Linked DNA regions of Homo sapiens. The protein of the gene in region 3 purifies or fractionates together with the protein of the main gene of each other region. This does not show direct contact. Each region holds a gene or a part of one and is shown on either strand. Other genes may lie near its edges.

What was found.
Region 1: the proteins of GPX7 (region 3) and ZC3HAV1L purify together in Homo sapiens (affinity purification with mass spectrometry; 2 studies listed by BioGRID and IntAct, with this or other methods). This does not show direct contact.
Region 2: the proteins of GPX7 (region 3) and GAK purify together in Homo sapiens (co-immunoprecipitation; 3 studies listed by BioGRID and IntAct, with this or other methods). This does not show direct contact.
Region 4: the proteins of GPX7 (region 3) and UTP6 purify together in Homo sapiens (affinity purification with mass spectrometry; 2 studies listed by BioGRID and IntAct, with this or other methods). This does not show direct contact.

The regions. Positions count from the first base shown.
Region 1 is NC_000007.14:139,032,424-139,040,600, forward strand, and holds the start of ZC3HAV1L (zinc finger CCCH-type antiviral protein 1-like), read right to left. Parts: upstream 3,620-8,177; 5' UTR 3,595-3,619; coding exon 3,230-3,594; intron 2,256-3,229; coding exon 2,120-2,255; intron 1-2,119.
Region 2 is NC_000004.12:865,895-874,058, forward strand, and holds part of GAK (cyclin-G-associated kinase), read right to left. Parts: exon of another isoform or gene 7,407-8,164; intron 7,332-7,406; exon of another isoform or gene 7,174-7,331; intron 5,011-7,173; coding exon 4,817-5,010; intron 2,792-4,816; coding exon 2,645-2,791; intron 1,539-2,644; coding exon 1,062-1,538; intron 641-1,061; coding exon 470-640; intron 1-469. UniProt on the Homo sapiens protein: Associates with cyclin G and CDK5. Seems to act as an auxilin homolog that is involved in the uncoating of clathrin-coated vesicles by Hsc70 in non-neuronal cells. Expression oscillates slightly during the cell cycle, peaking at G1.
Region 3 is NC_000001.11:52,604,588-52,609,932, reverse strand, and holds the end of GPX7 (glutathione peroxidase 7 precursor), read right to left. Parts: intron 3,250-5,345; coding exon 2,988-3,249; intron 1,672-2,987; coding exon 1,508-1,671; 3' UTR 882-1,507; downstream 1-881. UniProt on the Homo sapiens protein: It protects esophageal epithelia from hydrogen peroxide-induced oxidative stress. It suppresses acidic bile acid-induced reactive oxygen species (ROS) and protects against oxidative DNA damage and double-strand breaks.
Region 4 is NC_000017.11:31,891,363-31,899,526, reverse strand, and holds part of UTP6 (U3 small nucleolar RNA-associated protein 6 homolog), read left to right. Parts: intron 1-4,515; coding exon 4,516-4,557; intron 4,558-4,789; coding exon 4,790-4,882; intron 4,883-6,732; coding exon 6,733-6,780; intron 6,781-7,203; coding exon 7,204-7,267; intron 7,268-8,164. UniProt on the Homo sapiens protein: Part of the small subunit (SSU) processome, first precursor of the small eukaryotic ribosomal subunit.

The DNA.
Region 1 (8,177 bases), on a different chromosome or scaffold from region 3:
GGAGATCGAGACCATCCTGGCTAACAAGGTGAAACCCCATCTCTACTAAACAAAATACAAAAAATTAGCTGGGCATCATGGTGGGCGCCTGTCGGGAGGCTGAGGCAGAAGAATGGCATGAACCCGGGAGCAGAGCTTGCAGTGAGCCGAGACCTCACCACTGCACTCCAGCCTGGGTGATAGAGTGAGACTCCATCTCAAAAAAAAAGAAATAAATAAAATAAAATAAAAATAAAAATAAAATAAAATAAATAAAAAATAAAATAAAATTTAAAAAAATAACATACTGTATACCTGAAAATTGCTGTCCTTACCACACCCAAAAAATAATAGCCATGTAAAGTAATGGTATGCTAATTAGCTTAATCATTGCAATCAATTCACAATGTAAATATATTAAAACACCACATTGTACACTGTAAATATAAAATTTTTATTTGTCAACTACACTTCAATAAAGACAAAAATTTGATAGAATTCAACTATGAAACTATATAAGCCTGGCCAGGCGCAGTGGCTCACGCCTGTAATCCCAGCACTTTAGGAGGCTGAGGCAGAGGGATCACTTGAGGTCAGGCATATAAGACCAGCCCGGCCAACATGGTGAAACGCTATCTCTACCAAAAAGTACAAAAATTAGCTGGGCATGGTGGCACGTGCCTGTAGTCCCAACTATTCAGGAGACTGAGGTGGGAGAATCACTTGAACTCAGGAGGCAGAGGCTACAGTGAGCCGAGGTACTTCCAGCCTGTGTGAGAGAGTAAGACCCTGTCTCAAAAAAAAAAAAACTATATAAGTCTGATGTTTTCTTGTGCAAGCCTTCTAACTAATGCTTTGAGGTTTGTTTAATGCTTTTATTTTAAAAATTTTTATGACACTATTTTGGCTTTCCGTTTCTTCTTGAATCCATTTTGACAAGCTGTATTTTTCTAGAAATTTGTCCATCAATGCACCAGCATGAAACTTTACCTGTCTATTGTCTTTTTTATTGAGAGAGTGGTAAAAGCAATCATCAGGCATTTCATACAAGAGATGTGAGGCACCATTCTTGCCTCATGCACTGTGTTTTTCCACAGTCCCTGCTGCCCACATGATCACGTTTTGTGCCACATGTCACCTACTTCCAGTCCCAGGTGATGGGGACAAGTGGAGGCACAGGGGAGGCTCCTGTTGTAAGTGCAGCCAACCCATCAGCTGCTCACAAAACACTGAAGTAGTCTAATATGACAAGGTGAGGCTGGGCCCAAGATACATCCTAAAAAAGGGCATACCAAAAAAACATTCGATAGATTTGACAAAATAAAAACACTAAACTTCTATAAATCAAAAAGTACTATAAAATTAAAAGGCAAATAGCAGCGGCACCACGCCTTCTCTCTGAGACAGGAAGGACTGGACCCAGCCTCATAGGTGCAGCCACCCTCCTCTCCCTTCCTGCCAATAACCTGCTTCAGCTACTGCTTGCATCTACTTTGGGCAACATGGTTGGTTGGAATGCCTCTGGCTCACAACCGTGACATACCAGACTTGGCTTCAGTGCTCGAAGAAATGAAACAGGTTATGCATGTCAGGAAGAAACCTGCTTGTTCCTGAGATCAACTCCAGGACTGCCTTCTGGGTACAGATTCTGCTGCCTTGAGAGCAGCCTCTGCCACCTGCACCAAAGGCTCCAGCTCCTACCTCTAGTCTTGTGGCTATCTTCCTTTCTAGACGCTGAAATGCATTAGAGTTAAAATCAGGCCACAATTATGAACTATCCTCTGTTTTCTCAACATCTCCCCTTCTTCCCATCCCTCTTCTGGCCAAGTGGAGGTGTCTATGATAGCATCACTGTGCTAGATTAGAAAATCTTGCTTTTAATTGGTGGTCTTAATTGATGTTCCAATTTTCTCTTGGGATTTGTACTATTTTGTTTTTAAAACTTCTTTGTGTATGGCTAAACTGAAACAAACGTACTATTTCGCCATGATAGCAATTATAAAGGGTACCTTTAAAGCATTTGAAACTGAATCATGTTGCTTCGAAGGCAATTAAAATTAATATGTAAAGCCAAAAGAAAAATAAATGGGGAAAGTACTTGTAGCAAATGTGACATGAGGGTGACTCCTTGGTGACTCACCTCTGGTAAAAGACAGGGGTCATTCTGCAAAAGCAGGATCCGAAGCTGGTTTTCATTGAGACCAAAAAGTCCATGGCTTTTCAGGACCTGCATGTTGACAGGTGTGTGGATATCATGGGAAAGGGTACAGGTAGACCTAAAAGAACAAAGCCCTCGGTCAGATGCCCAGGTGAAGAAGGACCAGTCTGTCCAATTCCTTGCCTTGAGCAGCTTTCAATGTATTTAATACATGTGAAGTTGAGTAATTTTCATGAAACCGGGGATAGTATGGCCTAATAAGCACTGATGGAAAATAAGAAAATTGGGTTGAAGGAACTCCTCTCCCAGGGTCATTTGAATTTTCAGTAGGGATGCTTTGAAGCCAAGGGTCGCCCACCTCGCCTGAGGATGCACATCTGTTCCGTAGGCGACTGCACCTGGCCTTCTCCCCGGCAACAGCTGCCACAGTCCACCAACGTTAAAAAGAAAGCGCCCCTATCCCCAGCACCGCTTTGGCGGGGTGTGTGGCTAGAGACAACCAAGGAAAATTCGGGGCTGTGAAGCACAGCCTGGGGTCAGGAGGCAGCCCCGAACCCCAGCTCTGGCAGTCAGGAACCACAGGGCCTCACCCAAGCCATCCAGCCCTGTTTCCTGGGGTGAGACTGGCTCAGCGCTGTTAAACCTAGAGGGCGCAGACCCGCTTCTGCACAAGTGTGTGGATATGGGGGAGCAGCGATTTCCGGCTAAAGGGTCCAGGGATCTCATGGGATCCTCAGACGCCCCACGCCCCCCACCTCCCGCCAAATATCACCAGAATAAGTGAGCTCCGAAGTCCCAGTCCGGATTTAACCCGGCCGCGTCGCGCAGGATCCGGGGGGGCGGGCGGGGGCAGCAACTTTTCTGGCGTGGGCGGTTGAGACGTCTCCATGGAGAGGACCTTCGCGCCTTTCCGCCCAGCTGCTGGAAGCGCGGGGGAGGACGCCCAGGAAAGGCCTGCGGGAGGGGGTCGTCCAGCCCCGCGTCCCCGGCCCGGGGCAGGACGAAGCCCCCCTTCCCGTCGCTCCCGCTTCCAGCAGGACGGCCAGGCCCGCGGCCAGCGCCCACAGTCCCCGCCCGCCGCCGCCTTCTCACCAGCAGTCCCGGTTGGGGCACTTGCCCAGCATGTGCCGGCGGCAGAAGTGCAGCTGGTCGCAGGCCTGGCACTCGCCGCGCTGGTAGCGGGCGCAGAGGCGCACAGAGGACACGGCCACCACCCTCCAGGCGGAGGTGCCGCCACCGCCCACCGCGCCGGCCGCCGCCTCGGCCTCCGCGTCCCCGAGGCCCTCCTGCGTCTCCACCTCCTGCAGCAGGAAACGCTCGGGCCCGGCGCGCTGCAGCACGTCCCGGAGCCTGGCCTCCGACAGCTCCACGTGGCCGCGCAGGTCCTTCAGGAACATGCGGCCGCCGTGGGCGCACAGCACCTTGGTGAGGAAGGAGCACACTGTGGGCTCCGCCATGGTCGCTGGCGCGGGCCCTGTGCGCGCGGCGCAGCGAGCCGGGGCGGGCAGGCTCCTCCCAGTCACGTCCACGATTTCCAGCGAACAGCCCGGGGATGGGCCTGGGCCTGGCGAGGGGTGGGCCTGCGGGAGGCCGGGCGAGGGGCGGCCCCGGCGCGTGGAAGCAGGGTACGGCGCCTGCGGATCCCCTGGACGTGGACTCAGGCGGGGACAGCGTTGATGGAGCGTCTGCTCCGCCCAGGCACCGTTCAGGGCGAAGCCTGGCCTTGAGGGGCTTGTATAGTGGGAGTCACAAAGGACTCGCCAACAAGACAACTGGTAGTGCTAGGGAGGCCTGCGGAGAAGGAGAAATAGGTAAAAGGTGGTAGGAGGTGAGTGGCCGGGCTGCTTCGCGGGAGGTGGCCACTAGCCACATGTGGCTGCTGAGCACTTCTGGGATTTTTTGTTGTTGTTGTATTTTTATTTTTGGAGACAAGGCCTCACGTTATCGCCCAGGCTGGAGTGCAGTGGCGCTATCGTAGTTCGCTGCAGCCTGGAACTCCTGGGCTCAAGCGATCCTCCCACCTCAGCCTCCTGAGTAGCTGAGACCGAAGGTTCGCATCACTAATTTTTTTGGTTTTTGTTTTGCTTTGTAGAAACGGGGTCTCCTCATGTTGCCCAGGCTGGTCTCGAACTCCTCAAGCGATCCACCTGCCTCAGCCTCCCAGAGCACTGGAATTACAGGCGTGAGCCACCCCGCGGGGCCTGCTGAGCTTTATTGGAAAGTGGCTAGTCCGAATTGAGATGTGATATAAGTGTGAAATACACACACTAGATTTTGAGGACTGAGAATGAGAAAAAGAATGTAAAATATCTCACTAACTTTATATGAATCACATGTTAAACATAATATTTTGGATATATTTGGATAAATAAAATGTTATGACAACTTCATGTGTTGCTTCTACTTTCCTAATGTAGCTATGAGGAAATTTTACATTGCAAATGTGGATTACCTTATTTTTGTTGAGCAGCACCAGTCTAGACCTGCCTTAAGCATCCATGCTTTTTGTCCAACACCTTGCTTGTTTCATGAACGTTTGTTGAGCCAACTACTAACGCAGTGACAGTACAAAGATGAATCAGACCATCAGAGAACTCAGCCAGCCTAGCTGCTATTTTGCAAGGTGCTCGTGAGGATTAAATGCATTAATGTCATGTAATGTAAAGAAGCTAGAGAGGAAGACAACTGGCCAGATGCCAGAAGACCTTCTCTGCCATGCTGTGAAATTTGGACTTATATCCCGAGAACTTTGGGAAGTCACTAAAGGATTTTCATCTGGGAAGTGTGGATGTCTCCTGAGTGCCACTCAAGGTGTGTCATTCAGCTCTGAGCTTTAATGTCTTCTCTTCAGCAAAACCTTTCCTGACCTCTCAAATCTAAAGTAGCTCCCCAGTCTGCATGGAACTTACCACTGATATTTTTCTTCTTTATTGTGTATTTATATATTTAGCTATAGAATTCAGGCTCATGAAAGCAGGAACCTTGTTTTGTTCATTGCTGTATCCCTACCACCTAAAATAGTACCTGGCCATATTGTAGGATAGGTGTTTTAGAAAGACCCCTGGCAGCAATGAGAAGAATGGATTTCTAGAAAAGCAAGACGAGGTGGGGAATAACAGAAAATAAACAGGATTTGAGGGACTATAACCCCAGTGTTATTTATGTTGAGAGTTTGCAGTGGACAACCCAAGGTAAGACGCTCAACAGGCAGGTGTATTCTGTATACAGGTCTAGACCTTGAGGGACATGAGAAGGGAAGGGATGTAGATTTGCGTGACATCAGAGCATTAGGTAACTGAGAGTTGATAAGATCACCTGGCAAAAATGAAGAGTGTGAAAAGGTGGGGGACGGGGGGAAAGAAGCTTGGCGAATACCCACATTAAATAAGCAAGTGGGGGAAGAGAAAAATAGGCAGTAGCCTACGTCCCCTTGGCACTCAGCATTTGTTCCTGAACTCTCTGCCTAAGCTTTTTCCAACAGAAGGAGGAAGCAGCCAGCAGGAAAGGCAGGCTGGAATTACCAAGGAGCCAACACCTCCAGGAAGAGCCTTCATCCAGGGATGTTGGGGAATTGGTGGTTTGAGGATGCACTCTCAACCCTAAAATTGGCATGAGGATTATTTTAAACTAAAGACATGTAAGATTCAATAGAGGCAAAAAGAAGCCTTCTTGAAGCTTCCTTTATTTCAGTAAAAGCAGAATCTTCTGGGAGTGAGGTTGCCATTCATCCCCTCTCCAGGGGTTTATGGACATGAAATAGAAAACCACGTGCACCTGCATAAACAACTTCCCTATGAACACAAACTTCCTTATCTCCTGTTTGTTCCCTAGAAACCCCTTTGTTCTTCCCATAGGAGCCTTTTTGCCCCCCTCTCTCCCCTATTAAGTTAGGTAAATAAATCATCATCACTTCTTTTGTGCAGTGCCATATGCATATATGTTTTTTCTCTTGTCAGTTAAATTTGCAGCCCCTCAGAACTGAACATAAGAGAGTGCAGGAAAAGTTTTTCCTCCCCAACAATGGATCAAACAGCCCAACTCATTCCTCGTGTGGAACCACTTGGAGGTGTACATTCCATGGTCTCCCAATGTTTCCTCAATGGAACTGAACCCCAGTTGCCCACAGCCACACCTGCTCATTAGCACTCCCCATACAGTCTTCCTTCCTTTCCTTGCCCTACCTCCCCATTCCCCTGCCAGTGTTTCTTAGGATCACCTCCCAAGTAAACTGTGTGCATTCAATCCTTGTCAGATTGCTCCTGAGAGAACATAGCCTAACATATAAACTGATAAGGAGAGGTTAGAGAAAAATGAGAGTCATTCATGGACACGCAGAGGAGAGAGTTTCAAGGAGAAAGTGATCAGCATGGTGAGATACTACAGGGAGGAGCTTTCCTACAAGGGAAAGCTTGTAGACAGTGATAACCTAGGCAGGTTTATTTCAGAGGAATAATGAGAAAAGGTAGATTTCTGTAGGTTAAAAAAAGAAGAATAGAAAAACCGAGGACTTTACTTCTAAAAGTAAGTAAGGTAATGATAATAAGAGGAAGACACAAGACTGAGAAAGGTATTTTATTATAGGAGAGACAAGCATAGTTACATGCTGAGTAGAAAGAGCCAGTAAGACCGGGCGCGGTGGCTCACGCCTGTAATCCCAGCACTTTGGGAGGCCGAGGCGGGCAGACCACGAGGTCAGGAGTTCGAGACCATCCTGGCTAACATGGTGAAACCCCATCTCTACTAAAAGTACAAAAAATTAGCCAGGCGTGGTGGCGGGCGCCTGTAGTCCCAGCTACCCGGGAGGCAGAGACAGGAGAATGGAGTGAACCCAGGAGGCGGAGCTTGCAGTGAGCCAAGATCGTGCCACTGTACTCCAGCCTGGAGAACAGAGTGAAACTCCGTCTCAAAAACAAAACAAAGAGAAAAGAAAGAGCTAGTAAGAATGGAAAGTTGAAAATAAAGGAGGCCAGGTGCGGTGACTCATGCCTGCAGTCCCAGCATTTTGGGAGGCTGAGGCAGGAGAATCACTTGAGTCCAGGAGTTTGAGATCAGCCTGGGCAACATGGTAGAACCCTGTCTCTACTAAAAATGCAAAAATTAGCTAGGCATGGTGGCATGTGCCTGTAGTCTCAGCTACTCAGGAGGCTGAGGTGGGAGGATTGCTTGAGTCTAAGAGGTCAGAGGCTGCAGTGAGCCAAGATCGTGCTACTGCACTCCAGCCTGGGCGACAGAAAAAGGTAGGAAGGAAGGGAAAGGAAAGAAAAGGAAGGAGAGAGAGAAGAAAAAAAGAAAGAATATAAAGGAAAGGGGAATTGTAATCAGCGGGGGATGTCCATAGGCAGTGAGATAGAATGGGAGACGTCAGAGGAACTAACCTCCGACAGGAGGGGAGATGCTTCTTCCATTCACACAACAGGAAAGGAGACAAGGATTAGAGCATCTAAAGACAAGTTTGTAGGCTTTGTTTTGTTTTGTTTTTTTAAGTTTAAGGCAAAACCAAGAATGGATGGTGGAGAGTCACTTCAGGAGACCATAAAGGCTTGACAAAGCTGACTTGTGGAGAGGGGAGAAGGCTGACAGGTAGGACCAGTGGGCATGGGCAGGGCCTTACCAAGGCCACAAATTCGTAGTGGCATTGATCCAAACAGTGCTGCAATTCTCCTAAAAGCTCTCAAGGTGTAAGAACAGAATTTGATTGATTCACTTTTAGGTTTTGCCAGTGGGTGAGACTTAAGGTCAAAGGTTCTAGATGATTGAGGTATGAATTGAAAGAGTGATCAGGGGGCTGGGTGCAGTGGCTCATGCCTGTAATCCCGCCACTTTGGGAGGCTGAGGCAGGTGGATCACCTGAGGTCGGGGATTCAAAACCAGCCTTAGCAAAGTGGTGAAACCCTGTCTCTACCCAAAATTACAAAAATTAGCCAGGTGTGGTGGCACACGCCTGTAATCCTAGCACTTTGGAAGGCCGAGGCAGGAGGATCACTTGAGGTCAGGAGTTCGAGACCAGCCTGGCCAACATATTGAAACCCCATCTCTACTA
Region 2 (8,164 bases), on a different chromosome or scaffold from region 3:
ATGCTGTGCCCCGGCGCCTGACCTCCTCCCCATGGATACGGTGCCCCACGGCCCCTGCTACACCCAGACCAGGTCAGCTTCCCGGACCCTGGGTCCCCCAGCTGCCTCCCTCTGACCTCTGGTCCCTACACAAGCTCTGGGTGCAGGTGGCCTTCTCTGCTAACAGCTGCAAGGCCTGGGCCTGAGGAGGCCTGGAGAAACACCTGTTGCCAGTCACAGACGACTGAGGCACTGCAGGGCCCCACAACCTGTTCCAGGTTTGGGGATGGTTTGGGGAGACAGAGCAGGGAGCAGTCTGTCCTGACCTCTGGGACGTCCTGCAGGATGCTTGGGCCGCAAGGAGCGCACCCGGAGGCCACACAGTCCAGCCCCACCACTGCCTGAGACCCACAGCTCTGTTTCCCACCAGAGGCTGCGGTCCTGAGGGAGGCGGCCATGGAGAGCTGGCTGCCAGGCGAGAGGCACTTACCCAGGTGCAGGAAGTCGGCGCTGCAGGATGGGGGCGGAGCACTGTGGGCAGACGGGAAGGATGGTGGGACGGTCACAGAGTCCGAATTGAGAAATTCGCCGAAGAGATCAGGATTGGAGCAGGGCTGGGAGTTGTTGCCTGAAGACGGCAGAAGCGGGCCAAAGGGGTCAGCTGTGGGGACAGGCGGGCATGGGGAGGACTCAGCCCGGCTGCCTGAAGACAAAGGAGCCCAGCTCTGGAGTCAGGCCTGCCCAAGAGGCCACTCCAGCTGGGCAGCCCAGACCCCACGGCTGCCCTCGCAGGGGCACTGAGGCAGTCAGCCCAGGGGCTCCCCGTGCCCCACGCCTCAGGATGACTTTCCCAGGGACACAGCAACACTGCTGAGATGGAGAAGCCAGTAGCTCCCGGCCCGTGAGCTCAGGTGGGCAGCACAGAACCCTGACATGACCCCGAGGCTGCTCCTGGGGGAGGTGGGGGAAGGGCACGTTCCCTTCCTGCAAGCACCTTCGAAACACGCCCATGCAGTGAGAATGACTCAGCCTCATCACTCATCTACTGTGAAGCCACTCGCCTTCAGAACAGAAACACGTACCAGCGGCAGGGGGCCCTCCTCTTGGGGTGCTCTGCACGCTCAGGGGAGGGGCCGGGCTTGCCAGGAGCAGCGGGTCCTCGCTGAGCAGATCCTCCGGGGGCCCCTGGGAGGCGGCCTCAGGGGGCCCAAGGAGGCAGCTGAGCAGGTCGGTGTTGCTGGAGGGGGCCTTGCAGGCCTGCGGGGGTACAGCTGGCCCTGCGCCCACCTCGGAGTGCAGGCCCAGGAGGTCGACCCCGTCTTCCTGTGGCACAGGCTCTGGCAGCACAGCCGGTGTCTCCACCTCAAAAACCAAGTCCTGCTGCACCAGCCCTGCTGCCAGGCCGGGGGGCTCTGGGTCGGCCCTGGGTTCCTGGCCCTCGCTGGAGATCGGGGATCCCCCTTCATCTGACACCTCACTCTCGTCTCTGTCCTCCATCAGGGCAGACTCGCTCTCCTTGGAAGAGGCATTTTCTGCACCAGTCTCTGCCTCCTTCTCTTCTGCGAAAAGGAAACAAAACCACAGGCTAGTGAGACCACACGGCCAGCACCAGGGTCCCCACGGCGCGTCCCTTCAGGGCCTCCTCGGCCCAGGGCCTTGGTGAACACACGTGGCCAGCACCAGGGTCCCCACGGCGCGTCCCTTCAGGGCCTCCTCGGCCCAGGGCCTTGGTGAACACACGTGGCCAGCACCAGGGTCCCCATGGCATGGCCCCTCGGCACCTCCTCGGCCCAGGGCCTTGGCAAGTGCTGCAGGAACACCAGGGTCCCCACGGCGCGTCCCCTCAGCCCAGGGCCTTGGCGAACCCACATGGCCAGCACCAATGTCCCCATGGCACGGCCCCTCAGCGCCTCCTTGGCCCAGGGCCCTGGCGAGTGCTGCAGAAGCTTCTGGGCGGGCGGTGGGGTGTTGTTCCTGAGGCGTCTCCAGCACACCCACCTCCAGCCTCTGCCTCAAGGGTCTGCCTGTGGCTCTCTCCGCCTGGGCCTCTGCGGTGCCTCAGGCTGAGTCAAGTGGGGGCCACATGGCAGCACTAGGGGGTAGGAACACCAATCAAGGGTGCTCTGGGAACAGGCGGCAGAAGGGACGAGCCCGATGGGAAGGCCAGGGGTGCTGGGACAGGAAGTGGCAGGTGCATCCCTTGGGGTGTGTCTGGGGTGAGGTCCAGTGATGGCGCCCAGGTGTTTTCCTGAAAAGCCTCAGAGGGGCTGGGAGCCCACTGGGGGTGTGGGCAAAGAGAGGTGTGGGATCCCCAGGTGGTGACAGTCTGTCCCTCCGCCCAGGCCCTTCCCCTGTACCCAGGGGCCCCGCCAGCATGGCCCATGCTGCCAGCCTCCCCAGGCCCACAGACTGGGATGAAGAGCGAGGGTTGTTATTTCAGACTTTGTGGGCATGTTCTTTTTTTTTCACCTTTAAAAAGATATGAAATCATTCTTAGCTCGTGAGCCATTAAAGAACAGGCTGACATGCCGGGTGCACAGCCCCACTGAGGTGCAACTCAGCTCTGCCGGAGGCCCGTCTCCCAAGACGCTTGCCCTGCCCCAGGGGCACCTCCAGACCAGGGGCCTGCCCTCTGCAAGTGGCCAGGTCCAGGGACGCTGCCTACCCTGCCAGTCCAGCGTGTGCAGGAAGCGACTGGCGTCCGCGCTGCTGCTTGGCGGTGAGTCAGAGTCTGTGGGTTCGGCTTCCGGGGACCCTGCCCCAGCATCATACTGAGCCGTGGAGCCAGGCTGCCGGGGAAGCTCCGGCTTCCCTGCAGGAGAGGGAGGGCGTCAGGGCACTGGCACTGGCCAGCAGCCTCGGGGCAACACTGACCCCAGAGCTGGGAAGTGCAGCCAGGCGGGCGCCAGCACCGTGGCAGGCCAGGCCATCGGTAAAGCAGACCAATGACATGACGGGGAGGGGCTCTCTGAACAGATTCCTGCTATCCACTCGGATGCCACTCTGGGCCATGCGTGCACACTTGGGCACAGCACACGCACACATGAACACGCACAAGGAACCCACCACTGAGGCATCAAACGCCACACATATGCAGGGTACACATGAATGCACACACACAGCTGCACGGTACACACGAATGCATAGAGCACACACACAGGCGCACAGTACACACAAATGCACACACACAGATGCAGGGTACACACGAATGCACACACAGCACACACAGATGCACAGTATACACGAATGCACAGACAGCACACACATAGATGCAGGGTACACATGAATACACACAGCACACACAGATGCACAGTACACATGAATGCACACACAGATGCATGGTACACACGGATGCACAGACAGCACACACACAGATGCAGGGTACACATGAATGCACACACAGCACACACACAGATGCACAGTACACATGAATGCACACACAGCACACAGATGCACAGTACACACGAATGCACACACAGCACATACACACATGCAGGGTACACACGAATGCAAAGCACACACAGATGCACGGTACACATGAATGCACACACAGCACAAATGCACAGTACACAGGAATGCACACACAGCACACACAGATGCATGGTACACAGGAATGCACACACACAGATGCACAGTACACACGAATGCACACACAGCACATACACACATGCAGGGTACACATGAATGCACACACACAGATGCACAGTACACACGAATGCACACACAGCACATACACACATGCAGGGTACACATGAATGCACACACACAGATGCACAGTACACACGAATGCACACACAGCACATACACACATGCAGGGTACACATGAATGCACACACAGCACACACAGATGCACAGTACACATGAATGCACACAGTACACACAGATGCACAGTACACACGAATGCACACACAGCAGAGATGCATGGTACACACAAATGCACACACACAGGCACAGTACACATGAATGCACACAGCACACATAGATGCAGGGTACACATGAATGCACGCACACAGATGCACGGTACACACACATGCACACACTCGGATGCACAGTACACATGCATGCACACACACAAATGGACGGTACACACGAACGCACACACAGCACATACCGATGCATGGTACACACGAACGCACACACAGCACACACAGATGCACTGTACACACGAATGCACACAGCACACAGATACACAGTACACATGAATGCACACACCACTCGTGCACACACACACACGGCACACACCACCCACGGACACATACACAGCACGCACAGGTCACACATACAGCCTCTTTCAGGGACGCTGAAGATGCTCAGAAAGAAAAAGCAAACACTGCAAACCAAGAGCCGAGAACAAGCGTGGCATGAGCAGTGGACGGCCCTGGGCCCACCTGCCAGCACTTCCTGGGCTGCCGTTTCGAAACTGCTCGGAAGTGAAGAGCGACAGGAGCGAGGGTTCTGTTCCACATGCTGCCAGCAGGCCTGAGGCTCACAGTGAGAGTGGACGTGTGTCCAGCACACATGACAAAAATCTGACCCAGACACACGCCTGGGACAAAACCCCGCTTCGCTCCAGGAGCCTGGGTTTTCCTCCCTCTGCCTCCGTCCCTGCCCATGGGCCTCAGAAATTGCAGCCTGCGAGTCCTTCTCTGGTGTAGCTGGTGGTGGTGTCCAACATCCACGACGGAGTTTCCAAAACCTCCTGCAGCCCAAGCTGCTCAGGGCCTGGGTGCAGCAGCAGGCGTGGGGCCCAGCCCTGCCAGAGCTCAGCCAAAGGTGTCTCTCTCCACAGAGACACTCACCAGAACAGGGTTCACCTAATTCACCTGCGGGATCTTACCAAACTTAGACAGAATGTCTTGCTGCTCCTCCCGGCTGGAAAACAGGATTTTGGGGTTCAGCCCCCTCATGCTCGAGTTCTCCCATGGTGGGGCTTCCCGGCTCGGCCTGTCCCTGGGCTCCACCTCCACTTCCAGGTTCACTTGAAATAAATCCGGGTATTTTTCTTGAATGTCACACGCGTCCAGGTCATACCTGCGGTTACAAGTAGACACCACTTAGGAAGGCCACCCAAGTAGTCTGTAAGTCCTTGGACATTCACTAAAGAAACGTGCATGGAAACAGGTGGCAGCTGCAGGCAGCGGGGCGAGAACAACCAGGGCAGCCGGCCACCCCCGCCTGCGGAAGCTGGAGCCCTGTGAGCTGACCCAGCAGCTGTCCCAGGAACCCACAGGGCACCAGCACCCCCGGTCACGGCCCCAGAAGAGCATCATTTCACTCGCTCCTCGGACGTCACAGTGGGGATGCCCGCGACTGTGTTCAAGGCAGAGGGGCACCGGGCGGGGCCGCCATGTTTCCTGCAACTCCAGGGGAGGCCACGTGCTCAGAGCAGACGGGACAACATCCCACAGCTGGAGACTCCGGCACCCAGGCAGGCAGCTCTGAGGTGGGACCCCAGGGTTCCAAGGCAGGCGCTGGCCCTCACTACCCAGCACACACAGACTGCAGCCACCCGGCAGCTCAGAGCACGCACTCTGGGATACTAAATGTGTTTTCCATAAAAATGACGACGTCCGCCCTGACAAAAATCCACAACTGTCAACAGATGCCCATAAAACCAAGACCTCTAGAATCCGGCTGCCAGGGAATTGGGAACATGATTCCGGGGGAAACAAAGCTGTGTTCACTGTGGGGCTGGGGAGGCAGCCCAGGCTGAGCTGTGGGGAGCAGGGCAGAGGTCAGCAGGGCCTGCCTTGGGGTGTCGGCCGTGCGGGTGGGGAGCAGGGCAGGGGTCAGCAGGGCCCACCTTGGGGTGTCGGCCATGTGGGTGGGGAGCAGGGGCAGGGGTCAGCAGGGCCCGCCTTGGGGTGTTGGCCGCACGGGGAGGCAGGTGTGACCTGACACTGACCATTTCCCAGCCCCACAGCTCTCTAAGGAATTCCAGGCTATTTCACACATTTCCTATGATCATCTCTGATCCCACTGTCATAAACTGCACTGATAAGCCTGGGCTCTCCAGCGGGCAGCAGGCTCCCCATGCCTGTCTTATTTTACGCCACCTAAAATCTCTACATGTTGAATGTTATACACCTAAGAAAATAAAGAAGAAACACAAAAGAGTGGCGGCCAGTTCCTGGGAAACCCAGGCTGCCAGTGTCTGCAGGGCCAGGAACACCCAGAGCAGAGTGGGATCCGCCGAGGGAGGGCAGGGAGACGGGCCCGGCGGCCTGTGTGGGTCAGAGCCACGGCTGGTTTTAACTGTCACTTCTCTGAGCTCCACACATGCCTGTGATGTGTGAAAGGCCTCTAGTTCACCCCTTCCTGCTCACCCTCTAAAACATCCTCTCCCTGCACGAGGGGAGAGCACCCTGTGCCCGCCCTGAGGGGTGGCCAACCTCACGCAGAGCAGCGCCCCCTCAATGCCCACTCAAGGCTCTGGGCGGAGGTGGCCACGGCCGAAGCCGGGACTGATGTGCACTCCAGCCGGGGCCAACACGAGCTTCCCCCTGCGCCCGAGCCTCTTTGCGTGCCGCTGTCTGTCGTCAGGGGTGGCAGGGACTGCACAGCGGTGGCACAGCTGGCGTGGAGATGTGGAGGAGGCAACGTCTGCAGAGGAGCCTGCAGGCACCAGCAGAGAATCCGACGGCCACCGCAGCGGAGGCTCAGACCGGCCACGACCGAGGGCGGAGAGGCACAGTGGGAGGGGCACGGAGGGAGGGAGTGTGCAGGGAGCCAGGTCGGCCAGACGGGCTTGGGTCCTGGGACAGACCGAACTTGGGCAGCCCCAGAGGGAGTGCCGCTCATGCCCAGCCTCCCTCCCCCAGCTGCCCCTTGAGATGGCCCTGGGCACTGGGCCTGCAGGCTCGGCTCACCCAGCCTGGCGCTGAGGGCACAATGAGGTCTGTGAGCAGGGCTGGCCACTCCCGAGAGCCCTGGACTGCAGAGGACACTGCCCGCAGGCTCCTGCCAGACTAGCTCCAACAGGGCAGAGCGGACTCCTGACAGGCTCAGCTGTTACATCTGTGCCATGGCTGCAACCCTGTGCTCCTCTCGCCCAGGCACGGCGCAGGCTCACCACGCAGGGAACACGCCTCTCGCCCAGGCACGGCGCAGGCTCACCACGCAGGGAACACGCCTCTCGCCCAGGCACGGCGCAGGCTCACCACGCAGGGAACACGCCTCTCGCCCACAGCGCAGCCTTGATCTCGCAGGTTCAAGCAATCCTCCTGCCTCCCAAAGTGTTGGAATTACAGCTGTAAGCCACTGTGCGCAACCAACCTTTCTTCCTTTTAATGTATGCATTTGAAGTTACACATTTCCTCTAAACCCTGCTTCAGATGCACCCCACACATCTGGTAAGTGGTATTTTGATTATCAATGTGTTTAAAATATTTTCTCATTTCAACAGTGATTTCCTTTTTGGCACACAGGTCACTTAACGAGCATACGGTCTCTGGGTGTTTTCCTGTCACTGATTCCCACTTTAATCCACTGTTGAGATGCCTTGAGACTTGCTGTATGACCCAACGTGGAGTCCACTTTAATAAACGCCCACTTGAACAGATGCCATTTCTCCAAGTATTCGCTGAAGTTTGCAAAACTCAGGTCAAGTTGGTTAAACCTTGTAAAAAAAAAAAAACTATATCCTGTTCTTGTCTACCTGTTCCACTGCCTGGGGAGAGAGGCGGCCATCAGCGTGGGCCTGTCAACTTCACCCCTCCTTCTGCCCTTTGTGCTGCCTGTACTGAAGCCATGTCACTGCCCTCGCCCCTGCAACGTCACCCGTCACCTCCTGCCTTGGTCTATCCCACCTGATATGGACAGTGACACCAGCCTTCTTCCTGTTATGGTCTGCATGGTAAGCAATTTCCAATTATTCCACTTCAGCCTTGCTAGGTCTTCGTGTGCAAGGGTTTTGAAGTATGGCTCCTGTAAGCAGTATAGACTTGAGTTTTGTGTGAGCTTGGTTTTTAATCCAGCCCGATTAACTGGAGTGTGTCTTCTATCCACCTTCAATGGGATGACTGACAGGCACAGCAGGGCGTCGGTCTACCAGCTGGCTGTTTTCTATCTATATCCCACCTGGGTTTGTTTGTTTATCTCTACGTTGTTCTGGCGAATTCATCACATATTTTTTGTTCCATTTTTCTTCTTGATTGCATCTTTAATCTGCCCTAGGGATTGGTAC
Region 3 (5,345 bases):
TTTTTTTGAGACAGAGTCTCTCTCTGCTGCCCAGGCTAGAATGCAGTGGCGTTATCTCCGCTCACAGCAACCTCTGCCTCCCGGATTCAAGCGATTCTCCTGCCTCAGCCTCCAGAGTAGCTGGGATTACAGGCACCTGCCATCATGCCCGACTAATTTTTATATTTTTGTAGAGACGGGGTTTCACCATGTTGGCCAGGCTGGTCTCAAACTCCTGACCTCAGGTGATCCACCCGCCTCAGCCTCCCAAAGTGCTGGGATTACAGGCATGAGCCACTGTGCCCGGTCATGCCAGGCTAATTTTTGTATTTTTATTTTTTTATTTTTATTATTATTATTATTATTGAGACGGAGTCTTGCTCTGTCGCCCAGGCTAGAGTGCACAGGCTGGAGTGCAGTGGCACGATCTCTGCTCACTGCAAGCTCCGCCTCCCGGGTTCACACCATTCTCCTGCCTCAGCCTCCAGAGTAGCTGGGACTACAAGCGCCCGCCACCACGCCCGGCTAATTTTTTGTATTTTTAGTAGAGACGGGGTTTCACCGTATTAGCGAGGTTGGTCTCGATCTCCTGACCTCGTGATCCGCCCGCCTTGGCCTCCCAAAGTGCTGGGATTACAAGCGTGAGCCACCGCGCCCAGCCTAATTTTTGTATTTTTAGTAGAGATGGGTTTTCACCATGTTGGCCAGGCTGGTCTCAAACTCTTGACCTCAGGTGATCCACCTACGTTGGCCTCCCAAAGTGCTGGGATGACAGGCGTGAGCTACCGTGCCCGGTCACTGAGTTCTTATTGGGCAATAATGATTGGCTTAACCAAAGGCCTGGCAGCCTTTGTACCAAACTGCTAACACTGTTTACCTCTAGGGAGGGAGACTATGGAAAATGAGGAGGATACTTTCATTTTTATTTTATATCGTGAGGTATTGTTTGGATTGTTACAATGAACTTGCATTTCTTTTGTAATGAAGAAAATAATACAGAGGAAATAACAACAACTAAACCTTTGGCCTGGATTATCATCGGCTGGAAATTCATGTTGGATGCAAGTTTTTATTGATAACAAGTTATTTTTTGGTTTATATGCAAAAAATGTTCATTGAATGCCTCCTATTTGGCTGGCACTGCCTAGGCACTTTCACAGGTATTTCATCCTAATCCTCACAACAGCCCTATGAGGTAATCATTGGTCCCAGTTTACAGAAGCCTTGGGTGGGAGATTATTGCTTGATATACTTCTATTTGCCACACATTTTTGTTGGCAAGACGTTCGTATCGGCTGGTGATTCACTGGTCAAGAGCTCTCATTGGCCAGGAGTTCCTATTTGTTGCTGTAAGATTCAAATAATCAAAATACTAGAATTTTTCCCCCACAAGAATGATGGGACCAATGGCATAAGAGTAAAGGAAGGAGAGTCAGTGGGTCTCTCCCTTTGAAGCACCATTTGAGTTTGCATTGGTCAGCCCCACACAGGTGGGCGGGATGAGGTGGTGGAGGAGGAGACGCGGTGGTTATAAGTCTTCTCGCTTCAGTAGGATGAGCTTCCTCACGAGCGCTGTGATCTGGGGTCTGACCTCCTCCACTGACACAGTTGGGTCCCAAGCCCCTACCACCTTTCCATCTGGGGCTACTAGGTACTTCCAGAAGTTCCAGGTGGGCTCCTTCCCAGAAGTCTCTAGAGAAAAAGGAAGGAGAGCAAAGCGTGCTACCCTGCGTACCCTCTCCTGGGACTTCACTCTCAGTGTCCATCTTTCCCTGGTGGCAGCTAATCCTGATGCCCAGTCCACACCCCAGACCACTCCAACCAGAATCTCTGAGGGTGAGGCTCAGGCATCAGCATTTTTCAAAAGCCCCCTGGGAGATTCCAAAGTGGGGCCGAGGTTGAGAACGACTGCTGTAGGATTCTGTGACGTGCTTGATAAAGTGGTATCAAATCCTCCTTTATTAATGACTTCGAACTACTGAATAGTCTACACCCTATTCTCTAGTTCAGTTTTAATGGTTTCCAAATGTTAGTCCATGGACTGGTTTCATCAGAATCACTGGGGGTCAGGGGAGTGCTTAAAATAAAGATTCTTGGGCCCTGCTTCAGTAGGTCTCAGCCTTGTGCATTTTTAAGAGCTCCCCAGGTGCTTCTAAAAGCAAGGCCGGGTTTGATCTATAACTGTGAGAACTGGGAAGGAACTAATAAAAGAACACAGAGAAAAAAATCAACATTAGGACTGAGCCACAGAGCAAAACACAAACCTGCCGCAGTAAGGGACCTTTTGTTTGCTGCACTCTTGCTTCTCATTTACTCCTCCAGGTGAATGGGTTGCAGGGTGGGGTGGTGGCAAGGGATACAAAGGCCACCAGAAGCACGGAATCAGAAAAGGCAAAAATGGGGCCTCCAGAGGAGAAGGCCTGAGGGAAGAAATGGTCAGAATGGCAAGCTTAGCCCATGAGCCCATTCTGTGGCTCTGAGGCTTCTGCAGCTGGAGAAGGGATCTTGTTCTCAAATACTAAGATCTGGTATTTTAGCTTAGAAGGTCTCCCTCCATGGCCTACAGACTCCGCCACTGACTCAGGGTGAAGATGCCTGTCTACTATCTTGGTCAGCTTTCTCCAAGCAGGTGGCCTCCCCTGTCTATGCCTTGGTTTCTCCATCATATGTCCATAAACTCATCTAGTTCACACTGACTTAAATGTCTCCTTCTAGGAGCCCCTGAATGTGAAAACAGGATCCCAGAAAAGTCCAAAAGAGTGACTTCTGAGGGACAAGTGAGAGGCAGCAGGTATGGAGATATTCTTAGGCAGGAATACCCCTCAGCTTCTACCTGCCTCCACTCTCCTCAAAGATTAGTGCTGGAACAAAGCATCAGTCCACCTGAGATGATCAGGAAGGGGAAGGGGCCCCAGGTCACCCAACCAGCCAGTGGCTTCTGCTGCCCAGGGAGCCATGGCCTCAGCCAGCTAAGGGAGGTGTGAGGGGATGAAGAGACCAGGACTTACGGGCCAGGTACTTGAAGGCAGGATGGGCACCAGTACCGGTGACTGCAATCTTGCTAAACATGGGGAATGAGACACTGTAGGTGCGGCGGGCAAAGCTCTCAATCTCCTTGTTGCTGTCAGGCTCCTGTTGGCCAAACTGGTTGCAGGGGAAGGCGAGCACGTTAAAGTGGTGGGGGCCCAGGTCTCGCTGCAGCTGCTGCAGGGCTCGGTAGTGCTGGTCTGTGAAGCCGCACTCGCTGGCCACATTCACCACCAGGGACACCTGTATGACAGAAACAAAACAAAACAAAGCCCAGACAAGCCAGTGAAGAGGCATGAACCTGTACATGCCCTGACACATCCACATATGTGACTCCCTCAACAGTTAATACTGCCTCACACATACAAGAACACTGTGTACACATATGTAAATGTGTGTCCAGTGCTCTCACACATACACAAACACATGCACACAGACAGGCACATATGAAATCAAACATTCAGGAGCTTACAGATGTGTGCACACATACATGAACATCTGTGAACATAAGTATACAACATACATAAATAGGTATGCACATGCACCACGATACAAACATGTTAGCAAACACCACACATGCCCACACACACAGCACATCCACAGACTGGGGCACACATACTGGTGAGCACATACTGAGAACTGATAAGAGGGGGTACAAAGGGAGACCTGGGCTCAATTTTTGGCTCAGTCAGCTAGCACTCGCCACTCTGCACTGTGTCAGTCTCCCTTCTAGAATGTGAACCTACTGAGGGCAGGAGCTATGTCCACTTCATCTCTGGGCCTGGCATATGAAAAAGTCTCAGTAAGTTTCAGATGAATGAGTAAGTGTGCACACAAACACAAACGCCTGCATGGGAACATAGACACAGGTTTTCTTGAGAAAAGAACCCTCATAACTCCAGGGCAATCACCTTTTTGTCCCCCTCCTCTCCAGAGAACTAACACCACTTTTGTTGTTGTTGCTGCTGGAGCAATGGCATAATCATAACAGGACATCCCCCCAACCGTTTGCAGTCTCAAACTTCTGAGCTGAAGTGATCCTCCCACCTCAGCCTCTCAAATAGCTAGGACTACAGGCACGTGCCATCACACCTGGCTAATTTTTTAATTTTTACTTTTGGTAGAGACAGTTCTCGCCATGTTGTCCAGGCTGGACTCAAAAACTCTTAGCCTCAGGCAATCCTACCAGCTAAGCCTCTCAAAGTGCTAGGATTACAGTCATGAACCACCATGCCCAGCCTACCACTTTCTTTTATCATTAGACTAATCCTTAAATTTATTAAAGCCTTTAGGCAATAAATACAAAGCTGGCTAATGGAACTTGATTATAAGACTTTGATTAGAATTTTGGCTCAAATGCTATGTTTTTAGCTTCTAGGTATATATTATTAATGGATTTAAAACCCTAGCCGGTGCCTAGGCAGCCTAGCCCTATCCTCCATAATTGACATTTGGGTCAGATAATTCTTTGTTGTCGGGGGGATGTCCTGTTTATTTATTATCAGATGTTTGGCAGCATCCCTGGCCTCTACCCACTAGATGCCCAGTCTTGACAATCAACAATGTCTCCAGACATTGCCAATTGTGCCCTAAAGGGAATAATCACTCCTAGTTGAGAACTACTGGGCTAGATGATTGAACCACTGAGCTGTACCTCCTGTACCCTACCTCCACCAGGTGAGAAAGGACCCATGCCTGGGGCCACTGGCTATTAGAACAACCTCCTCAATTTGAGGTCAGCATACACCATACTGTGCCTGGAATGGTGAGAAACTGGGACTGTTAACTCCCTTCCTCAGTTAGGGTTCTTCCTTTTTTTCCCCCTGCTGGATCCCTGGGCAATGAGAACATTAAAGCTTTTTTTTTTTTTTTTTTTTTTTTAAAGACAGAGTCTTGCTCTGTTACCAAGGCTGGAGTGCAGTGGCGCGATCTTGGCTCACTGCAACCTCCACCTCCCGGGTTCAAGCAATTCTCCTGCCTCAGCCTCCTGAGTAGCTGGGATTACAGGCACACGCCACCATGCCCAGCTAATTTTTGTATTTTTTAAGTACAGACGGAGTTTCACCATGTTGGCCAGGCTAGCCTCGAACTCCTCACCTTGTGATCCACCCGCCTCAGCCTCCTGAAGTGCTGGGATTACAGGCGTGAGCCACTGCGTCCGGCCAAAGCTTGCTTATTTTTAACTCACAACTTGCATGTCTGCCCGCTCTTTTGGAAGGGGGAAAATCTGGCTTCTAGTTCCATCCCTGAAACCAAAAAGCTTGGTCCTTAGAAACCAAAACACAGACAGACACACCCAAGTACACACAGTTAATTTACATATGTACATATACAAGCAC
Region 4 (8,164 bases), on a different chromosome or scaffold from region 3:
GCAACCTCTGCCCTCCAGGCTCAAGCGATTCTCCTACCTCAGCCTCCTGGGTAGCTGGGACCATAGATGCATGCCACCATGCCTGGCTAATTTTTTGGTAGAGACTGGGTTTTGCCACATTGCCCAGGCTGATCTCAAGGGATCCACCCACCTTGGCCTCTCAAAGTGCTGGGCTTACAGGTGTGAACCACAGTGCCCGGCCAATAATTAATAATTTCATTACTTTTTTTTGAGGCAGGGGCTCGCCTTTCACCCAGGCTGAAGTGCAGTGGTGCCATCATGGCTCAGTGTAGCTTCCACCTCCTGAGCTGAAGCCATCCTCCCACCTCAGCCTCTGGAGTAGCTGGGACTACAGGTGTGTGCCAGTATGGCTGGCTAGCTTTTGTGTTTTTTGTAGAGACAGGGTTTCGGCATGTTGCCCACGCCCAAAATGCTGGGATTACAAGTGTTTGTGAGCCACCGGGCCCAGCCTTACTTTTTTTATTTTTGTTTTTGAGACAAGAGTCTTGCTCTGTCACCCAGGCTGGAGTGCAGTGGCGCGATCTTGGCTCACTGCAACCACTGCCTTCCGGGTTCTAGTGATTCTCAAGTCTCATCCTCCTCAGTAACTGGGATTACAGGCGTATGGCACCGCACCCAGCTACTTTTAGTAGAGACTGGGTTTTGCCATGTTGGCTAGGCTGGTCTCGAACTCCTGGCCTCAAGCAATCCACCAGCATCGGCCTCCCAAAGCGAGTGCTATGATTACAGGCATGAGGCATCATGCTCGGTCCTAGCCTTACTTTTTAATCCCTTCACAAATTGATTGATTGGTTGATTAATTGAAATAGAGTCTCTCTGTGTCACCCAGGCTGGAGTGCAGTTGCACAGTCTCTGCTCACGCTCACCGCAACCTCCGCCTCCTGGGTTCAAGTGATTCTCCTGCCTCAGCCTCCCATTCCTTCACAAATTTAAAATCAGTTCTAGAATGATGAGCTTAACATCAAATTTTTTTTTTTTTTGAGATGGAGTTTCACTCTTATTGCCCAGGCTGGAGTGCAGTGGTGCGATCTCGGCTCACTGCAACCTCCGCTTCCTGGGTTCAAGCAGTTATCTGCCTCAGCCTCCTGAGTAGCTGGGATTACAGGTGCCCACAACCACGCCAGGCTAATTTTTGTAGAGACAGCGTTTCACCATCTTGACCAGGCTGGTCTTGAACTCCTGACCTGGTGATCCACCCGCCTCGGCCTCCCAAAGTGCTGGAATTACAGGCATGAGCCACCACGCCCGGCCAACATCAGTTTTTTAAAAAAATTAAAAGAATTCCAGAAACGTTCATTAGATAGATATTTCTGAACAGGAGTAGCATTGGGAGTAGCATTACTCCACTAAGACTGTAGTCCTGGCCAAACTGAACTTACTTTTCCCCTCCTCTTTCTCTCTTGTCGTTTTCTTTCTTTTTTTTTTCTACTGGGTTTGTAGATCAGAGATTGTCAGAGACATAGTGTGTATCAGGACTTCAGCAAGAGATTTGCCTCTTGGTGAGCAAGATAGAGGAGAGTGAATGTGATGAGTGTAGAGAATTGAAAAGTTACTGCTTGTTTATCTATTGTCTGTCCACTTGGAAAGAGGTGTACTGCAAGATTTTTTCATCTTGTAAATGCATGGAAGGTTTGAATAAAGAAAAATTATGTCAGACCAATTTTCCAGTGGGGGAGAATAGCTAATATGTTGGATGACGGAATCAGGATTCAGAAAGAACCAATAACAAGATCACATGTTTATAAGACTAGAAGTTTTGGTTGGGCATGGTGGCTCATGCTGTAATACCAGCACTTTGGGAGGCTGAGGCAGGCAGATCACCTGTGGTCAGGAGTTCGAGACCAGCCTGGCCAACATGGTGAAACCCCCATCTCTACTAAAAATACAAAAATTAGCCGGGTGTGGTGTTGGGTGCCTGTAATCCTAGCTACTCAGGGGCTGAGGCAGGAGAATTGCTTGAACCCAGGAGGTGGAGGTTGCAGTGAGCCAAGATTGTGCCATTGCACTCCCAGCCTGGGAGACAAGAGCGAAACTCCATCTCAAAAAAAAAAAAAAAAAAAAAGACTAGAAGTTTTGAGCTTAGATTTAAAAAGACAAAAGACAGCCGAACAAACAATATATGAACCTTGGCTAAGCTATTGTTTTTGGAAGAGGTCCTATGAGTAGATTGCTCACTCAAAATGAGCCAAGACCATATTATGTCAAAAATAGATTTTTTTTTTTCCAAATAATACACTCACTCTTGCCCAGGCTGGAGTGCAATGGTGCGAGCACTCATTGCAGCCTCGAACTTCTAGGCTCAGATGATCCTCCTGCCTCAGCCTCCCAAGTAGGTAGGACTACAGGCTTGTGCCAGATGGCTGGCTAATTTTCTTATTTTTTGTAGAGATAGGGTCTCCTTATGTTGCCCAGGCTGGTCTTGAACTCCTGGGCTCAAGTGATCCTCCTGCCTTGCCGTACCAGAGTTTTGGGAATTACAGACTTGAGCCAGTGTGCCCAGCCAAAAGATTTCTTAAAGCTAAATTAGACTGTGAAAGCACAAACCATGAGAGAAAAGACTGATTTATTTGATTGTGTTCAAAATACAAATTTCTGGAGGGGCGTGGCGGCTCACGTGTGAGACAGGCAGATCGCTTGAGCCCAGGAGTTCAAGACCAGCCTAGGCAACATGGCAAACCCCATCTCTACAAAAAATACAAAAATTAGCTGGGCATGGTGGTGCACACCTGTAGTCCCAGCTACTCTGGAGGTTGAGGTGGGAGGATCAGTTGAACCTGGGAGGTGGAAGCTGTAGTGAGCCATGATGGCGCCATTGCACTTCAGTCTGGGTGATAGAGACCCTGTCTCAAAAAAAAAAAAAATTTTTTTCTGTGCAAAAAAGACACTACAAATAATGTGAAAATACAAGCCACAAAATGTGAGAAAATATTTACAACACATAATTAGAACTACATATACACATATATAAAGAACTGTAAATCGAGAAGAAAATGAAAACTAAAAAGAAAAATGGGCAAATCATGTGAACGTGAAAGTCACAAAGGGGAAACATCACTTGTAGTTAAACTTATGAAAAGACATCAGCCTTATCAGTAATTAGTTAAATAAAGATTAAAACAAGGTGTAGGGGCCGAGCGCGGTAGCTCATGCCTGTAATCCTAGCACTTTGGGAGGCTGAGGCGGGTGGATTACTTGAGGTTGGGAGTTGGAGATCAGCCTGGTCAACATGGTGGAACCCCATCTCTACTAAAAATACAAAAATTAGCCAGGCACGGTAGCACGTACCTGTAATCCCAGCTACTGGGGAGGCTGAGGCAGGAAAACTGCTTGAATCCGGGAGGCGGAGGTTGCAGTGAGCCTAGGTTGCGCCACTGCACTTCAGCCTGGGCGACAGAGCGAGACTCCATCTCAAAAAAACAAACAATAAAAAAAAACCAGGTGTAGGACTGCTTTATATTCATTATAAGAGCAAACTTTTTTTTTTTTTTCTTTTTTGAGATGGAGTCTCGCTCCGTCACCCAGGCTGGAGTGCAGTGACATGATCTCGGCTGACTGTAACCTCTACCTCCTGATCAGCCTCCCAAGTAGCTGGGATTACAGGCACACACCACCAGCCTCGGTGAATAGGGATATAGCTAAAGGGATAATGTTGAGTAGAAATATGGATTGATGGGCCGGGCACGGTGGCTCATGCCTATAATCCCAGCACTTTGGGAGGCCAAGGTGGGTGGATCACTCGAGGTCGGGAGTTCAAGACCAGCCTAGCCAACATGGTGAAACCCCATCTCTACTAAAAATACAAAAATTAGCCGGGCATGGTGGCAGGCGCCTGTAATCCAAGCTACTCGGGAGGCTGAGGCAGGAGAATCTCTTAAAGCCAGGAGGCAGAGGTTGCAGTGAGCCGAGATTATGCCACTGCACTCTAGCCTGGGCGACAGAGGGAGACCCCGTCTCAAAAAAACAAAACAAAACACCTATGGATTGATGGATGTAGCATGATACCATTTATGTAAAATTTAAAGGCATTCAAGACATCATTATAATAAAGTCCAAAGTCATGTTTGGGAATGATAACAAAGTCAAGGTAATTGCTGCCTCTGGAGAGGGAGAAGAGTAGAATCAGAGATAGGTACATAGGTAGCTTCATTTTTATACGAACTGTTTTATTTCTAAAAAAGATTTGAAGCAAATGTAGTGCAATGTAGGTTTGGTGTAGCTGCATTGTAGCTGCATGGGGTGTTTTATATGCTTGAAATATTTCATGGAATAATTTTTAAGTGAAGCATGTAATTATAAGCTTGTTAATTCTGTTTAAGTTTTATAGCTAAGTGAATTTTAAGTGAGTTCTAGACATTTATTGTAAATTATGTGATAGCACATTATTTTTTATTTTATATTCTCGATTTTTGTTTTATGACTTTAACTAAATTTCCAGTATTTAAAAGGTTTTAGATTTTCTAGCTTCTCATTTTTTTGTATGTTTTTCTTTCATAGTATGAAATTAATCTTTTGGAGCTGATCCAGAGAAGAAGAACAGTAAGTAGAAGATTTTCTAGAAGTTGGAGAAAAATACAGAACTAAGCAGTATGGCTGTATAGTTAGGACTTGTGTTTGGGAGACAGTGTTGATAAAACTGTGGTGATATGCCTATAATGGATATTTGTAATTATTTGTTTGCTTCATCAGTACCATTAAGTGGTCAAGTAGGAATGCTGTTTTGGACAAATATGATTAAGTTGAGGCTCTGTTTTTTTATGTCCCCCTTTAGCGCATTGGATATTCATTTAAGAAGGATGAGATTGAGAATTCTATTGTACACCGGGTACAAGGTGTTTTCCAGCGTGCCTCAGCAAAATGGAAAGTGAGTGATCAAGGCATCCTTAACTTTATGAGATGTGAAGATAAGTATTATACATATTGTATTAGGGATTCAAATGCAGTTTTCTATTTTTATCTTGGGTATCTTTATACTTACTCTAATGATGGTATCATTACTCAAAACATTTTTTGAGCCACTTAACAAACCAGTAAGAAAATTGATCTTATTACCTTATAGTTATTCTATGAGGACAGTGCTGAAAACAGTGTATTTGATACATTACTAAGGATTGGAAATTTGGGAGATATTTGTATATATTTGTAAGTACACTGAAGACTTAGAGCTAGAAAATAAATGGTTATGTAGGGGCAATACCTCAGAAACTTGATTTTTTTTTTTTTCTTTTTTTTTTTTTTTTGAGATAAGGTCTCACTGTGTTGCCCAGACTAGAGTACAGTAGGGTGATCTCGGTTCACTGTAACCTCTGCCTCCCAGGCTCAAATGATTCTCCCACCTCAGCCTCCCCAGTAGCTGGGATCACAGGCGCATGCCACCGTGCCTGGCTAATTTTTGTATTTTTGGTAGACATAGGGTTTCGTCATGTTTTTTAGGCTGGTCTCGAACTCCTGGGCTCAAGTGATCTGCCCACCTCAGCCTCCCAAAGTGCTGGGATTACGGGAGTGTTTGGGATTGGGTATATTATATGAGAAGTATTTTGGATTCTTGGTAATGACAAATTTTATATTGCTACCCCAGATTGAGATTCTTTAAGAACTGCATTAAACCAACTGGATAGATAACAAAGTTTTTTTGGAGCATTGTGAGTGGGAGTTGGGGGAAAGGTTGAATTATCATAGTTAAGAGATCGGAGGCCTTTGTGAGGAAGAGCCAGATAGGATGAGAGGTGACTGGATTTTCTGAAATCTGCTTCTTTTTTTTTTTTTTTTTTTTTGGTGGGGGATGGAGTTTTGCTCTGTTGCCCAGGCTAGAGTGCAGTGGTGTGATCTTGGCTCACTGCAACCTCTGCCTCCCAGATTGAAGCAATTTTCCTGCCTCAGCCTCCCCAGTACCTGGGACTTCAGGCACGCACCACCGCGCCTGGCTAATTTTTGTATTTTTAGTAGACAGGGTTTCACCATCTTGGCCAGGCTGGTCTCAAACTCCTGACCTCAGGTGATCCACCTGCCTCAGCCTCCAAAAGTGCTGGGATTACAGGCCTGAGCCATTGTGCCTGGCTTTTTTTTTTTTTTTTTTTTGAGGTGGAGTCTTGCTCTGTCACCCAGGTTAGAGTGCAGTGGCACACAATCTCGGCAGCTCACTGCAACCTTCGCCTCCTAGGTTCAAGTGATTCTTCTGCCTCAGCCTCCCTAGTAGCTGGGATTACAGGCACATACCACCACACCTGGCTAATTTTTTTTGTTTGTTTTTTTGAGTTGGAGCTTCCCTATGTTGCCCAGGCTGGAGTGCAGTGGCCCGATCTCGGCCTCCCGGCTTCAAGCGATTCTCCTGTCTCAACTTCCTGAGTAGCTGGGATTACAGGGGTCTGCCACCAAGTCCGGCTAATTTTTTTGTATTTTTAGTAGAGACGGGGTTTCACCATATTTGACAGGCTGGTTTTGAACTCCTGACCTCAAGTGATCAATCCGCCTTGGCCTCCCAATAATCTTTGTAATTTTAGGTTAGGTGGGGTTTCACCATGTTGGCCAGGCTGGTTTCAATCTCCTGACCTCAAGTGATCCGCCCGCTTCGGCTTCACAAAGTGGTGGGATTACAGGTGTGAGCCACCGCATCCAACCTGAAATTTGCTTGTTTTTAGCAAAATTAATTAATGCAAAGGTGTATTATATGTAAAGGTCAAATTTGGGCAGCTTACTACATTGCTTTTCTTGCAGGACGATGTTCAACTTTGGCTCTCCTATGTGGCTTTTTGTAAGAAGTGGGTGAGTAAAGCCATGCATGTCTTGCTTCCTCTGACCGTCTTTTTGTTAATCTGCCCTTTAAGCTTCATGCCAGATGTTTTTTCCTGAAGTGTAGGGTTAACATGAAAAAAGAACCCAAGAAGGCGGAACATCAATATAACATTGGATATCTGAATGACTATGGTTTCCAATTCAATTGAAAAGAATATAATTTTTACGTGTGTTTGTTCAATACAGTTGACTTTTTAAAAAGATATTTAAAGTGTTTAGTGGTTTAATTGAGGTAGAAAATTTTGAGGGTCTGTGTTCGTTTATATATCCCTAGCAATAGCATGTCATGCTCCATTGGATTTTACAGTTGGTAAAGTTAGGGTACATATTACTTAGAGAGTAAGATCAATGATTTATCTGTGCAGGAAGTAGAAATATTTTCCTTTTTTACAGGCTACTAAAACTCGACTTAGCAAGGTATTCTCTGCCATGTTGGCGATTCATTCCAACAAACCAGGTATGGTGAAATCTTTGTCAATTTTTCTATGTTTTATTTAGACTCAAGCCATTTTGGATTTTATTTCGATTGATGAATCTAAGAGAAATTATTTTGAGGACTTGAGCTTAGGCAGTTGGCCTCAGCAGTTTTTCTTACTGAATAGCTGCCTCATAGTTCACCCCTGCCTACTATATACTAGTTACTGTCCTAGGTGTTGTATCTGCAGGCAAGAAGGACTGTATTTCTTTTTTTTTTGAGACGGAGTCTCGCTCTGTCGCCCAGGCTGGAGGGCAGTGGTGTGATCTTGGCTCACTGCAACCTCCGCCTCCCAGGTTGAAGCAATTCTCCTGCCTTAGCCTCCTGAGTAGGTGGGATTACAGGTGCCCGCCACCACGCCCAGCTAATTTTTGTATTTTTAGTAGAGACTGGGTTTTACCACGTTGGTCAGGCTGGTCTCTCGAACCCCTGACCTCGTGATCCACCCGCCTTGGCCTTCCAAAGTGCTGGGATTACAGGCGTGAGCCACCACTCCCGGCCAGACTGTATTTCTTTTTAGATGATGGCAAAATAAACTTTTGAATCCTTTGTGGGACATTTTATTTGGAGGCAGTCAAATCTGAGGAATTTTAGAAGCTTAAAGGGGAAAATATCAATATAAATTTTAGAAGAGTGCTGGTACAGAGTAGACTCATGTTTTGTAAGAGAAATATTTCTCTTGTGAATAATGTATAAATGGTCTAGTTGATAGTGGAGGGGCCTCAGCACCTATTCTCAGGGTATTAGGCTTAATCAGATATCTTATACCACACAAGACTCAAATAGACTACATTTGGCACCAGTTTACTCAGAAATATAGCAGGATAGCCTTAGGTATGTTCCTTCTGCAGAATGCTCTTAGCAGAATGGAGGTAGCCT